3 separate regions of the Homo sapiens genome follow, and all the other regions are reported to be linked to region 1. Evidence: microRNA targets listed by miRTarBase, many of them from high-throughput screens and not tested one by one. Region 1 holds a microRNA gene; each other region holds the end of a gene's coding sequence.

Region 1 (5,000 bases):
AATAAATACACACACACACACACACACACACACAGAGAGAGAGAGAGAGACACACACACACACAAAATTAGCCAGGCATGGTGGCGCATGCCTGTAGTCACAGCTACTCAGGAAGCTGAGGCAGAAGGATCACTTAAACCCAGCAGTTCAAGTCTGCATAAGCTATGATTGAGCCACTGCACTCCAGCCTGGGTGACAGAGTGAGACCCCATCACAATAATTAAATAATTAAAAGGAAGTGAAAATGCATTGGATTGGTAGCAGATATTAACTCAGAGACATGACCTTGCCTGTCAAGTGTGGGGCACGGTGCTAGCTATGGGTAAAATAGAGGAGGAGCTGAGGCAGGATCTCGAATGTGCTTCTGCTTAGGCGCAGCTCTCATCACCCTTGAGCAAGGCTCCTTGTGCGTCTGTCTTGCCTCCTGCACTGTGAGCTGCTTGCAGGCAGGGACAGTGTCTCACTGATGTTTCACCTCCCACTCAGAGCACACGGCAGATACAGAGTAAAGGGTTTGAAGATTTGGACAGGTGAATACGGGAATGGGTGGGTGAAAAAGAGATGCCCTCTGCCCTTAGGCTCATGGGAGTAGAATGGGGAAGAGCACAAACTCCCATCCATATCAAAAAGCAAAACAGAAGGCTGTGGGCTCGAGGGGGAGGTCACACCCAGTCACACCTTGGTCATGAAATGACACTGCCAAGGCCCCTTCAGGGCTGTCTAGCAGAGGGTTTTCCATTAAGCAATGGGGCAAAGGCTGTCCCTCTTCTTGGCCTCTCAAGGAGGGGCTCCTAGGACAAAAGCTACCTCCCCCTCGGAGCTCATTCCTGGGAACTGCTGTTCTGAAGCTCTGTCTTGAGGGCTTGACCAGCCCCCCCGCCTTTTTTTTTTTGACACAGAGTGTTGCTCTGTCAACCAGGCTGGAGTGCAGTGATGCAATCTCAGCTCACTGCAACCTCCATCCACCAGGTTCAAGTGATTCTCCTGCCACAGCCTCCTGAGTAGCTGGGATTACAGGCACCTGCCACCACACCGGGCTAATTTTTGTATTTTTAGTAGAGACAGGGTTTCACCATGTTGGCCAGGCTGGTCTCAAACTCCTGACCTCAGATGATCTGCACGTCAGCCTCCCAAAGTGCTGAGATTACAGACATGAGCCCCCGAGCCCGGCCTGACCAGCCCTTTCCTCCTTCCCTTCCTTTCCTAGATCATTCGCAAGGTGGTTCGACAGATAGACTTGTCCAGCGCCGATGCCGCCCAGGAGCACGAGGAGGTGACTGTAGAGGGGCCCCTGGAGGATCCCAGTGAGCTGGAGGTCGATATTGATTACTTTATGAAACACTCCAAGGTACTGAGGCGCCCGCGGCCCTGGGGGACCCAGCGCCATCACTGCTGCCTTGCTCTGCCGGGCCGTCTGCATGACACCTCCCTCCACTCACCTCTTTATGAGCTCTCTCTCCAGTCTCTCTTCTCCCTGGTGGGCAGTGTGTCTGCCACCTCCGTGTGGCCTCCTTTCGATCTTCTGCCTGTGTTCTGCCCGTCTTTGCGATCTGTCCTGCTTTCTGTCTCTGCTGCTGTCTGCAGGTGGAGCTGAGAGGGAGTGGCCTACAGCCGGACCTGATAGAGGGCAGGAAGGGGGCGCAGATAGTGAAGCGGGCCAGCCTGAAAAGGGGGAAACAGTGACCCCGAGCCGCTCTCCTTGGAGTAGCCTCTCGGGAGGTAACGCTGCCCTTCTCATCCCCTCTGCATGGCCTGGTCTTCAGTGGAGTGGCTGCTCCCTGTCTCACCCTATCCCCTCCCAGCCACCCCAGCATGATGTGGGACAAACAACTTGTTGTTGTGTCTCGAGGCAGAGATTCTCACTTCCCAACCCTGCTAACAGTTGGCTCTGAACCCCAGCTTCCTCATCAAGGAAACAGAGTTAATAATATCCACTTATCAGGGACCGCACGGTTTTGTAAGAATGCCTTTTGGGCCGGGCACAGTGGCTCATGTCTGTAATCCCAGCATTTTGTGAGGTCGAGGCAAAAGGATTGCTTTAGGCCAGGAGTTCAAGACCAGCCTGGGCAACAGAGCAAGACCCCATCACAAAAAAAAGAAAAAAAAAAGCCAGAAAGAAAAAAATGCTCTTTGAAAAGTAAAAGCACTCTGTAAATCTAAGTGGTAATATTATCTTGGAAACCAAGCAATGGGGATCTAGAAAGCAGTGGACAGGGCATTGAAGAGGACAGGAGAGTTGGTCTGGGCTGTGATGCTTCAACATAAGAGCTCCAAGACTGAGGACTGGACTGTCTCTTGAACCTGGAGCCCAGCTACAGTTCTCACCAGGCCAAGGCTTAGCTTCTCTTTGGTGTTTTGTGAAACACGTTGCTCCCTTGCTTTCTAGGAAAGGGCTGAGCCGACAGGCCTAAGGGGTGGACGACGTGCTTTCTGCAAGTCAGGAGACCGTCAGGGTTGGGGCCGGGGCCTGGGCTGTGGTGCATGTGTGTGAGCATGGGGCAGTGTGGCCACAGAGCAGGGGCATGCCGTGCCGTGCCGTGCCATGAGGAAGGGACATGAAGACGCTGTGCGACCATCTCCAGCAGGTGTGTGTGGTGCTGGGGGCTTCAGCGGCCGGCTCTGATCTCCATCCTCCCTGGGGCATCCTGTACTGAGCTGCCCCGAGGCCCTTCATGCTGCCCAGCTCGGGGCAGCTCAGTACAGGATACCTCGGGGTGGGAGTCAGCAGGAGGTGAGGGGGCATGGTGGCCCCAGTGCAGCACTAACCAGGCCGTTACCATTCACACCCCAGGGCCTGACTCTGGGACCGAGCAGCAAGGAGGCTCTAGCTTTCTGCATTCGGCAAAAATCAGGGCCCGCTGCCTCCTGAGCCACCAAAAGTGCTGACTCTGGGCTTCCCAATATATCTCAGCACTTGGGCAAAAAAGAGGACTGGCAGATCCAGTTATAGGATAAAATTAGACCTGACACCTCAGCAGCTTAAGGAGGTCACCGTGTTAACCCCTGCACTGCCAGGGGTCCCACTAGGCTGCTGGTTTAGAAGACTCTGAGTAGCTGCTGTTGGGTCCTGGAAAGAACCCAAAGATGCAAATAATGTTTAAAAGCAGCAAAGGGAAAGGAAAAGTACACTTTTCTGACTTATTTTTCTTATGGTAGCAGTGGCGGCTGTGGCTTTAAATTTCTCTTTGGCTCAGGCTCTATGGATGCTCCTGAGTGGGAGAGAGGCAGCCCGAAAGCCAGGCTAGGGGGAAGGAGGGAGCCTTGAATTTCATTTTAATTTGCCGTAAGTGATCTGCAATGTGGCTGAAGCCCCCCAACCTCAGGTGATTAAGGACCGGACCACACTAGCATGGGTGTCAGAAACACGGAGCAGCCTGGCTCTGGGACAGCACTTGGCCCTCTGTCAGTGACAGGCACAGGGACAAGTGTGAGGGTGGCAGGGGGGTGGGGCGGTGGGGCGAGAGCAGTGGTGAGGGAGAGGCGGAGAAAAGCTCCTGCCAAAGTCCCAGAGGGTTAGGGGACAGCATTAAATGCCCTACCCTCCCAACCAGGGCAAAGGCTACAGAGAAGACGGTTGAGGGCCCAAAGGCTTCCTAATTTACTATCCGCATCCCCGACAAGCATGTACAGTCGATCCTCATCATTCACGGATTCTGCATTTGCGAATTCGTCCACTCGCTAACATTTATCTGTAGCCCCAAAGCTGGCACTCACCGTGCTTTGGCTCATTCATGGACACACACACAAGGGCAGAAAGTTTGAGTCGCCCAACCCGTGCAATCCCAGCTGAGGATGAACAATGCCACACTCTGCCTCTGTGCCTCATACTATAAATAAGTGTCCTCCTTGCAGCTTGTGTAGTGCCACATTTTTCACATTTTTGGTTTCATTGTTTAGAATGGCCCCTGAGGGCAGTGCTGAAGTGCTGTCTGGTGCGAAGTGCAAGAAGGCTGGGATGTTCCTTAAGGAGGGAATGGACATCAGATAAGCTCTGCTCAGGGATGAGTTAGAGTGCTTGTGGTGGTGAAGTCAGTGTTAATGAGTCAACCCTATATATTACATAAGGCGTCTTGAAACAGAAACGCATTTAACACAAAGTTATGTATTCATCAGTTGACCAAAATATTGTGGCCAGAGGCTCATGGGAGCCTAACCTTGTATTTCCCTTAGGAGCAGTGGTTCAGTATTTGCTAATTCCGTGTTCACAGCGACTATTTATTTATTTATTTATTTATTTATTTATTTATTTATATTTTGAGAGGGAGTCTCGCTCTGTCGCCCAGGCTGGAGTGCAGTGGCACTATCTCGGCTCACTGCAACCTCCATCTCCCGGGTTCAAGTGATCTTCCTGCCTCAGCCTCCTGAGTAGCTGGGATTACAGGCATGTGCCACCACCCTTGGCTAATTTTTGTATTTTTAGTAGAGACGGGGTTTCACCATGTTGGTCAGGCTCGTCTCGAGCTCCTCACCTCAAGCAACCCGCCCTCCTCAGCCTCCCAAAGTGCTGGGATTACAGGCATGAGCCACTGTGCACAGCCTCAAACAGCGACTAATTTATAGAACAGAGCTATGGCAAATGGCTGTATTTGTTTCAGAGAGTGAAAGCTGGAGCTTGTGAGTCTAGAATCAAGGCCTCCTCCTGCTTCCAGGTTGTATGGCCTTAAGTCATTTAACCGCCCTAAGCTTCAGTCTCCTCAAGGGAGGATGAAAATGTCCCTTTCGAATGTGCTACACTTCAAGAAAAAGGTTTAGAAATAATAATGGTAACTGTGAGCACTGATGTGAAGAGAGTAAATAAGAACATATATGCTCTGGGACTCAAACAATTGCAGGTCTTGTTTGTAGTGTGACTCGGAGCAAGTCAAATGACTTCCCTAAGCCTCAGGTTCCTTAGCCATAAACTAGCAATAATGCCAGCATTTCCCTTGTAGGATGGTTATGATGGTTGCTGAGTTTATGTTTGTGAAAGGGCTGTCTAGGGCCGGGCATAGTGACTCATG
Region 2 (5,000 bases), not on the chromosome of region 1:
ACCAGGGTACTGACCACCTCTCCGCCCCCGGCCCCGGGGTCCTGACCACCTCTCCGCCCCCGGCCCCGGGGTCCTGACCACCTCTCCGCCCCCGGCCCCGGGTTCCTGACCACCTCTCCGCCCCCGGCCCCGGGGTCCTGACCACCTCTCCGCCCCCGGCCCCGGGTTCCTGACCACCTCTCCGCCCCCGGCCCCGGGGTCCTGACCACCTCTCCGCCCCCGGCCCCGGGTTCCTGACCACCTCTCCGCCCCCGGCCCCGGGGTCCTGACCACCTCTCCGCCCCCGGCCCCGGGTTCCTGACCACCTCTCCGCCCCCGGCCCCGGGGTCCTGACCACCTCTCCGTCCCCAACCCCGGGGTCCTGACCACCTCTCTGCCCCCGGCCCCAGGGTCCTGCAGGCAGGGCTGGAGGTGGAGCGGCTCCGACTGCGGAATTTCTATCACCACTACCACTCCAAGAGGGGCATGTGGAGCGTCCGCAGCAGGAAGGGCTCTCGCACGGGGGCGTCTTGAGGACGGGCAGCCCCTCCCAGCCCCGGTGGGAGTCCCGAGGCAGCTGCTGGGGGCTGGGCTTTGAGCTCGGTCCCGAGAGACCCGGCAGGGCTGGTCAGAGGGGCACAGCCACCGCCTGTGCCTGCCCCTCTCTGGCCCACTGGGCGTCGTGCCCCTCCCCGGAGAGGCAGCCTTCACGGCGGGTCAGGGCCTGGCCTTGGTCCCCACTCTGCGATGATTTCTGTGAAATTTTGCTGTAGCGATGACATTGTTTTCAGAATTTCCAAGAGTTCTGTCTGTTCTGTTTTTTATTCAGAATGAAATGAAATATTTTTTTTAGTTCTGACTAGTCCTCTGTGCCTGTTCTCTTGAGAGGTAGAGTCCTCTCCCCTGGGGGACCCTGAGCACGACCTCCTGACTCCCAGCCGCAGCCCTTCCGGACCTCTCCTTCTCCTACCCCCAAGACCACTTTCCCCTTCCTGCCTGTGAGGTTCTGTGCCGGGCCCTGTGGGGAGGGGGCTTCCGACTTCCTCCGCCCTGTGTCTATGGGGTCTGTGCCCGCTGATAACAGACATAGATAGCACAGGGCCCTCCCACACTGAGGCGAGGAATGAGCAGTCACCACCTCAGTTCCCCTCATTCTGCAAACAGAATCGGGGTGTCATTCCCACCCCAGCCTCCTCTAGGGTGGAGGAGCTGCTGCACCCAGGTGGGGCATGTCGTGTGCTGGGGTTGGGGGTGATCAGGCAGAACTCAGGGTTGCCAGAAACAGAAACCCAACTCAAGCCAGTGAAGCCGTAATCAGGGGGCCTGTATGACTTTGGAACCCTCCAGGTCAGGGTCAGCAGGACACCAGAGAAGGACAGACTCAGAGGCTGGTCGAAGCCCACTCCTGCCTTGTCTCCTCTCTGCCTGTGGGTCCAGCTCAGTCCTGGCCTGGGCCAGGTCACAGGAGGGAGGCTGTACTCTGCCAGGCAGCGAGTGAGTGTGTGAGTTCCCTGTGGCTGCCGTAGCAAATTGGCACAAATGTAGTGGCTTAAAAAAATTATTATCTTACAGTTCTGGAGATAAAAAGTCCTAGAACTAAGCCCGGCACAGTGGCTCACGCCTGTAATCCCAGTACTTTGGGAGGCTGAAGCGTCCGGATCCCTAGACACGGTGGTGTGTACCTGTAGTCCCAACTACTTGGAAGGTTGAGGCAGGAGGATCACCTGAGCCCGGGAGGTCAGGGCTGCAGTGAGCTGTGGTTGCATCACTGCACTCCAGCCTGGGAAACAGAGCAAGGCCCTGTCTCGGAAAAAAAAAATGCTAAAATTAAGGTGTCAGCAGGGCTGGTTCCTTCGGGAGACTTAGGTGTGAGTCTGCGTCCGTGCCTTCTCCAGCTTCTCAAGGCCACCTGGATTTCAGCAGCTTGGCCTCTTCCCCTCTCTCACTCACTCTCTCTCTCCCTCTCTCCCTCATCTCCTCCTGTGACTCTGACCCTGCTGCCTTCTCTTATAAGGCCCCCTGCGATGACACTGGGCCCTCCCAGCAAACCCACGATAACCATCACGTCCCTCACTCAGTCACATCTGCAAAACCCCTTTGCCATGAAGGTAACAGTCACAGGTTCTGGGACTAGGACAGGCACATCTTGAGCGGTCACTCTTCTTTCTACCTCCTCGTTCACACGGGGTGGGAAAATAGCTCCTAGGCCCAGCAGCCAGAATTGTCCTCTGCAGATACGTCCTGAGGTCACTGCTCACCGTGCACTCACGGCAGCTGGGCGGTGGAGCCGAAGGAAGAACCAGGGGGACCTGCCGTGGACCAGAGCGGCATCCAGTCGCCTGGTGTGGGCTTCACAGGTCCTGCTGGTCCACAGGTGTGCAGGTCCACAGAGGTGCCCGCAGGGCAGGGGACATGGCTGGCCACACACATGCCCAGAAGCCATGTGCTGACCAGCTGTCCTGCCCGCTGATCCCTGTGTATCTAGTTCAGATGGACTTGTCCCCACTCACAGATGTTTCGCAGCAAGAGAAGAACTAGCCTTGGATTTAATGATCCACGCTAACCCAAGAAAATGAGAAAAGGATAGAAGAAATGTAAACCACAGGCAGGGGAAGCCTGCACATCAGAAAGAGAATTAACCTTGGAAAACAAAAAAGTCAAAATTCCATGTAATCTGGACGATTCACACCATCATTTAATCCGTTTAGCAATGATTCATTGCACACTCACTACATGTCCCGCACTGAGGAAAAGGCAGGGAACGGAACAGACAAAAACTGCTGCCCCCAAGGATCTTACATTCTAATACGGGGGGGAGCGGGGCACGACGACGCCATCAATAACACATCTGGTATACCAGCTGGCGGCAAGGGCAGTGGAGAGAAAGGAAGCCCGGGAAGGCAGCAGCCCATGTGAGCGTGACTGCGTTTCTAAGCAGGGTGCTCAGAAAGACCAAGCGTGAGAAGGTGAAGGCGGCCGAGGACACAGGCGGGGGAGGGCAGGGGTCAGCGGCAGCCTTTGAGGAAATTTCTTAAAAATCAATGATAAGGCTGGGCATAGTGGCTCACACCTGTAATCTCAGCACTTCGGGAGGCTGAGGCAGGAGTGATGGCAGCGGTGGCCCATCTAGAGTGGACACTGCCAAGATGCTGGCCGCAGCGGAGAGGCATGGCAGGGCCTCCCACTCCACAGAGCAGGCAGGAGCTCGGCCCTCCTGGGCACTGGGTTCGTTTGCGTGCACCTCAATATTCCTGTGCTCTTGGGGGCCCAGGAAGGCCCCCACCCGGCCCCCTGTAGGCTCAGAAGTACCTGCTCCTGCTGCCCCTGCGGAGCCTGGTGCTTCCAGTAGCTGGAACCGGGGCCCACAGTCCGCTCCCAGAGGTGTCTCCCAGCATGGTTGCGAGTCGGGTGAGGGGCGGCCCCAGGCTGCCCCTGAGTGTTGGAACTGCAGGGGGATCTTGTGGTGACATCGCCTCCCTCTGCCCCGGATGCCGACCCGGGCTCTGTGAGGGCCGAAAGTCTTCACCCCAGGCTGCAAGGAGGCGGACAGGGGAGCAGGATGACTGCAGGAGCAGCAGTGGCGGCAGCAGGTCCCCAGTGCCCCATGTCCCCAAGGCTGCCGACGGTGCCACCCCCACCCTCACACAGCTGGGCAAGACCCACTCCCAGGCCTGGAACCCCCACAGCCGGGCAAGACCCACTCCCAGGCCTGGAACCCCCACAGCCGGGCAAGACCCACTCCCAGGCCTGGAACCCCCACAGCCGGGCAAGACCCACTCCCAGGCCTGGAACCCCCACAGCCGGGCAAGACCCACTCCCAGGCCTGGAACCCCCACAGCCGGGCAAGACCCACTCCCAGGCCTGGAACCCCCACAGCCGGGCAAGACCCACTCCCAGGCCTGGAACCCCCACAGCCGGGCAAGACCCACTCCCAGGCCTGGAACCCCCACAGCCGGGCAAGACCCACTCCCAGGCCTGGAACCCCCACAGCCGGGCAAGACCCACTCCCAGGCCTGGAACCCCCACAGCCGGGCAAGACCCACTCCCAGGCCTGGAACCCCCACAGCCGGGCAAGACCCACTCCCAGGCCTGGAACCCCCACAGCCGGGCAAGACCCACTCCCAGGCCTGGAACCCCCACAGCCGGGCAAGACCCACTCCCAGGCCTGGAACCCCCACAGCCGGGCAAGACCCACTCCCAGGCCTGGAACCCCCACAGCCGGGCAAGACCCACTCCCAGGCCTGGAACCCCCACAGCCGGGCAAGACCCACTCCCAGGCCTGGAACCCCCACAGCCGGGCAAGACCCACTCCCAGGCCTGGAACCCCCACAGCCGGGCAAGACCCACTCCCAGGCCTGGAACCCCCACAGCCGGGCAAGACCCACTCCCAGGCCTGGAACCCCCACAGCCGGGCAAGACCCACTCCCAGGCCTGGAACCCCCACAGCCACCTCAACCTCGCTTCCTGCCGTGTCCCGGGAGCCCGTGAGCACCCAGCTGAAGGCACAGCCGGGTCTCGTGGAACCAGCCCTGGGAGCAGTGGGTTTATTTGTGCAGGGTTGGCAGGGCGGGAGCACCACGGGGGCAGCTGCAGCCAGCCAGGTTGCTGCTGTGTGGACCCAGGCCTCCTGGTGGTCTTGGGGGCCAGGGAGGACCCCCTAACACCACAGGCTTGGGGGTGTCCCTGCTCCTGGCGCCCACTCTGATCTTGGAGTGGGGTCGGGGCCAAGCCCGGGTGTTGTTGCAGCCCAGCCGGGTGTGCACCCTCAGAGCAGTGCCGAGATGCCAGTCCCCTGCCACCTCAGCCCCTCCAGACTTTGGGCACCAATGAGTGTGGGAGGGAGGCCAAGATGGAGCTGGGGGCAGCTCAGTGCTGGCCTGTGGGCACCCCTTGGCACGAGCGGCCTGGGCACCATGGGCGGCAGTGGGAGGCAGACAGGCTCCTGGGAGGGAATGGGCAGGTCCCTGGTGAGGCTCCACCTTCAAGCCAGGGTGGGCCTGAAGGCTGGGGGCCAGGCTGAC
Region 3 (5,000 bases), not on the chromosome of region 1:
TGGACACTTGGGTTGTTTCCATCTTTTGGCTACAGTGAATGATATTGCAATGGACAGTAACACAGAAGCATCTGTTCCAGCCCTTGTTTTCTATTATTTTGGGTATAGTCCTAGGAGTGGAACTGCTGGATCATATAGTAATTCTATATTCAACTTTTTGAGGAACCACCAAGCTGTCTGTTTTCATTCCCATCAGCAACGGACAACGTTTCCAGATGCTCTCCAGTACTTGTTTTGTTTTGTTTTGTTTTGATAAAAGCCATCTTAATACTGTAAACTGGTGTCAAATTGTGGTTTTTATTTGCATTTACCTAATGACTAATGATATTGAGCATCTTTTCATATGCTTATTGGCCATTTGTATATCTTCTTCATATAAATGTTTATTCAAATCCTTTACTCATTTTTAAATTGTTTGCTTTTGTTGTTGAAATGTAGTTATATTCTGAATATTAATTCCTTATCACATATAGAGTTTGCAAATATTTTCTCCCATTCCATGGGTTGTCTTTTTACTCTCTTGATAGTATCCTTTGATGCAAAAATGTTAATTTTGATGAAGTCCAGCTTACCTGTTTTTTTCTTTCGTTGCTGGTGCTTTTGATATGTCCAAGAAATGTTTGACAAACCCAGTATCATGAAAATTTTTCCCTATATGCTAGCCCCTCAAGGATCAAAAGCAGCAATCAGTAATCAGAACCCACAACCTTGGTTTTTGGAAAACTGGGTCTTTATTGTCCAACCTGGCTCCAGCAAGCCACACTAAGTACCTGAGCTGCTGTCCCCACAACTGACTGCCCTGGGGCTGATCAAGGTGGGTGGTAGTCACCACTAAGTAAAGAGCTGAAATTGACCAAAACTTGCCAGCCTCCTCATCAAGCTTTCTCCTGGGTGCTGCAAGTGTTCCCTAAGATCCTGAATTCCAAAATAGTTGCATCAGACAGCTCTTGCCAGTTCAATTGTTTTAATGGAGGGATAGATTCCAGGAGCTTCTTATCTCCACCATGGAGCTTGATATCGTCTTTGAGTAACCAGATTTTATGGCCAGCATAAAACACTGGAAGTTTTAGCCCTAACATATGTAAGTTGTCTCTTTCAAGAAATTCACACTGGCAGGCTGTATACTGGCTCCACTGATGGTGCCAATTCCCTTCTCTGCAACAACTGAGCTCTGGACACCTCATTCCTGCAACTTCTGAGCCCCCTTCACTCTGTTCAACTCAGAGGCCATTCTCATCCCACCCAGGGGCCAGCATGAGTGGCACTGCCTGTTGGTGGCAGCTTAGAACAGACCAGGGGTCTCACTCCATAGCCAGTGCCAGGAAAGCATCTTTCTTCCTTCTGGAGGTAAAAAGAGAATTAAAACATAGCTTATCTCCAGAGCTGAATCAGAAAACTTTTTCTATTGCCTGCTTGTAGAATATATTTTCTCAATGAAAACAATATCCAAAAGGGTGGCTTGAAATCTATAATATAATTTATTTTTTATTTTTTTTTTAAGTTTTTGAGATAGGGTCTCACTCTGTTGCCCAGGTTGGAGTGCAGTGGCACGATCATAGCTCACTGCAGCCTTGGCCTCCCGGATTCAAACAATCCTCCCACCTCAGCCTCCTGAGTAGTTGGGACTACAGGTGTGTGCCACCATGCCCAGCTAATTTTTTTTTTTGATGTTTTGCAGAGATGGAGTCTCCCTGTATTGCCCAAACTGGTCTCAAACTCCTGGCCTCAAGTGATCCACCCACCTTGGCCTCCTAAAGTGTTGGGATTACAGGTGTGAGACACTGCACTCATTTTTAGGTAAATTACAACCCCTAAGGTTTTTTGTGGTTGAGAAACATACTAGCTCTCATAATACTGGGATAAGAGTTTCTGGGCTCCACAGGTTTTGCAGATTATTAAGTGGCTGTCTGTCTGTCTATCATGAATCAGCCTCCCAACATTAAATCTCTTCATTCAGAAAAGATAGAGGAAGATTTTCTTTTTTAAAAAAAGTTTATTTTCCACACTATTTGTACAGCTGTAAACTCAAGGAATCATCCAATACTTGTACAAATCTGGGAGAACAGTTAATAAGCACCTTCAGTGGTTTCCACAGTTTAAGAATTTACCATTAAAAAATTTTAGAATAAATCTAATAAAATGAATAAAATAGTTATAAAAATCATACAAAATCATGATGAACATTTGATATAGAGGGTTTAATATGAAACGATAAATACAAAAAGTGAGACTAATTTATGGATTTGGGCTACGTAAAAGACCTACATGGTCCTCGAATCTTGTGATTCTTGGGGCTATATTTGCCTCTCAAGACAAACTCCAATTATTCAAGGAAGACTTTCTTTCAATTCAGGTTCCAATGTACTGCAGAAGCAAGTGAGGACAAAGTCAGGAGAAGGTGGGGCAGAGAGGCTGAGTGTACTGGGGTTTGAGGAAAAGAGGAGAGACTCTTTTCCCCAAAGAGAGTATCAGGCAAATTCTTCCATGTTCTCAAGTATAAGTGGTCTTTGGCAAAATGTACCATTTTCTTTTTGGAGTTACTTAAGAGTTTTACTTATTGCTGTTCTTAAATTCCTTCCCCTACCACTTCCTCTTGGGCTTTTTTATTTCTCTTGTTGATCAATCTCTTTTTTGTGATACTTTTCATTGAATCATCTCGACTCCTTTATCCCATCCTTTACTGACTCAAACTCCTTATGCTGAACTTTTCAATCCAAAATTTCTATTGTTTTAGGACTCTGGGAAGCAGTTGATAAAAAGATAACACGAGCTACTGATATGGTCAGGAGATGTTTTCTAAACAAATTGTAGAAATATAAACATGAAATGTGGCAATGATCCCTTTAATTAGATCATTGAGCAATAAAGGATATGAACCATTAGTATAAATATTCAATTCAGTCTTTCCGGATTGTGTTGTTAGATAAGAATACATCCAAAAAGGGCCACAGATCGAGGGAGAAACCAAGGAGGGGTGAGGTCATGGTTGAGTGTAAATTGGTTCTGTCATGTGGAGGCCGGAGGTGAGGGACTGTGGTGGGACATCATCTGGTGCCAGCCCCATCCTGTACCTCAGATAGGTCTCCGTGAAAAGGAGGGACATCAGTGCAAGCAGTGGGGCTAAAGACCAGCACAGCAACAGAGACTAGAACCTTGGATGCAAGTATTTTGGGCAAAGAGGAATAATTAGTAATCTTTGGTATAATTTAAGGCACATCAAAAAAATCCCCTATTCTCAAATATCTGACCTACACCTTGAAATTCCTACCATTGGACATTCTTTTGATTTAAGCCTTTAACTAACAAATGCCAATATCCTACTGCTCAAATATTGACATTCTATCTGGGAGGGGCTGCTCATTATCATCCACCAAATGCCCATAGATCTCTAGGACAGGGTAGGTTTTGATGAAAAAGCAGCGCATGAATATTATAATGGGGGTCTTAGACAAGATGATGATGGTGAGGAACTGAGGAGTAAAACTATAGGACTATAATAAAGAAGAAATTCAGAGCACCAAAACAAAACATTAAGGAATGCTAATTTCCTCCTTAACTCCCAACTTTTCCTAGTCAGGCCCCGGCTCATAGGTCAAGGAGCTGACAGGACGGTGGGTACCTCAAAGCGAGGCTGAGCTCATAAGGCCACAGGGAAGGGTGCAACTCAAATTTGGGAGGTTCTGTTCACCACTGGGGGGCTAGTATTGGGAAAAGGTCCTAGGACACTGGGATGGGCATGTAATCCTCACTCAGGGGTGTATAAGTCTGTCTGAGGGTTGGGGGTAGGGGTGGAGGGTTCTGTCCTTGTGTAGGGGTGGAGACTTTTCTATTAGAGAAGTCCAGGGTGCATGTTTTGGGGAACAGTGAGGGAAAAGTTGTTGGGGCTCAGGCTGGGCTGGGTCTGGGCCTAGTGGCCACTCAGCCAGAGGACACTTTTCAATCTGGACCAAGTTGCTTCAAGTAGAGTGTTGCTGTGAAATACTTGGAAAGGAAATAAGGCACTCTTGTCTTCATTTCTGTTCGATACAGTCAACTCCCAAGGTGTTGTCAGGGCAACGGCAGGTCCTGCTCCCTGGGGTGGCCAAGCATAGGTGGGTGCAGCCGCCATTGTTCACTGAGCAGTAGTTATGGCCTGGAAAAGGCAGAAATCAGTTCAATAGCCCTCTCTCTGATCTGACTCCATAGCCATTTAAGATAGTGGGCTCCTTCTTGTGTGTGATCCCCCTTTTAGTTTCCTTGAAGCCATGCTAGGAAGGCTTCAGGAGAATGGGGACACTGTGCTAGGCAGTCAGCTGAGCTGATCCATTGTTTGTTTTATCAGCATTAAACCAGACACAAACACTGATTCCCAACTTGGGGGTTATGCAGATTTTCTACTAAGGCTATTAAACAGATCTCAGGGGGAAGTTCTCCAGCTCTGATTATAACATAGAATTGGAATTTTAAAGTGCAAAGTTCTTTTTATGTAGCTTGCACTCCTAGCTTCACACTGACAGAAGAAGATGAGGGAAGCTGAGAAGGAAAGTGGGTGAGGGGAGAGGCCTTCAAGAGGCAGCATAGCATAGACTCCAGGGCCAGGCTGCCTGGACTTGCCCCTGTGAGCTGTGTGACTTGGAGCAAGTTGCTTCAGTTTGCTTATTTATGAAATGAACATAATAATAGTACCTACCTCACAGGGTTGCTATGAGGATTACATGAACTAACAAATACAAAGTATTTAGAACTCTAAGTGAGTTGATATATGTAAAGTTCATAGCTCACAGTAAGTGCCACACATATGTTTTCAATTCTTATTATTAATTATTGTTATTGCTGTTAGGCCAGATGGATGGACTTTTAAAGGAGCAGAGATCCTAACATTGTAATATCCTAACCTGACTATTTGGAACCTGAAGACCCTATGCTTTTATATCCAGCCCAAAACTCAATGCTTTTCCTCATCCTGACAACTTCATGACCTAATATTTTCTGTTTATTTAACTGGTTCACCTGCTAATGAA

Evidence for each region. Region 1 holds the annotated microRNA hsa-miR-486-3p (CGGGGCAGCUCAGUACAGGAU, at 2,643-2,663, opposite strand). A microRNA usually pairs through its seed, bases 2 to 8, with sites in the 3' UTR of a target mRNA and lowers its output. Matches are read on the target gene's strand: a 7mer-m8 pairs with bases 2 to 8, a 7mer-A1 pairs with bases 2 to 7 and ends in A, and an 8mer does both.
Region 2: miRTarBase lists B4GALNT4 as a target of hsa-miR-486-3p. Seed matches in the 3' UTR shown: 7mer-m8 at 635-641.
Region 3: miRTarBase lists NID1 as a target of hsa-miR-486-3p. Seed matches in the 3' UTR shown: 8mer at 2,400-2,407.

What each region holds. Positions count from the first base shown.
Region 1 is chr8:41,658,149-41,663,148 of GRCh38, reverse strand. MIR486-2 (microRNA 486-2) reads right to left here and starts at 2,705; the gene lies at 2,642-2,705. It overlaps ANK1 (ankyrin 1), which reads left to right. Exons shown (of 43, transcript NM_000037.4): 41 at 1,208-1,273; 42 at 1,585-1,719. The coding sequence ends at 1,683. It overlaps MIR486-1 (microRNA 486-1), which reads left to right and starts at 2,641; the gene lies at 2,641-2,708.
Region 2 is chr11:381,280-386,279 of GRCh38, forward strand. It overlaps B4GALNT4 (beta-1,4-N-acetyl-galactosaminyltransferase 4), which reads left to right. Exons shown (of 20, transcript NM_178537.5): 20 at 390-838. The coding sequence ends at 513. Among named protein-coding and RNA genes, the nearest start is that of PKP3, 10 kb to the right of the region's middle.
Region 3 is chr1:235,973,857-235,978,856 of GRCh38, forward strand. NID1 (nidogen 1) reads right to left here. Exons shown (of 20, transcript NM_002508.3): 20 at 1,974-4,132. The coding sequence ends at 4,011. Among named protein-coding and RNA genes, the nearest start is that of LINC02768, 3.8 kb to the left of the region's middle.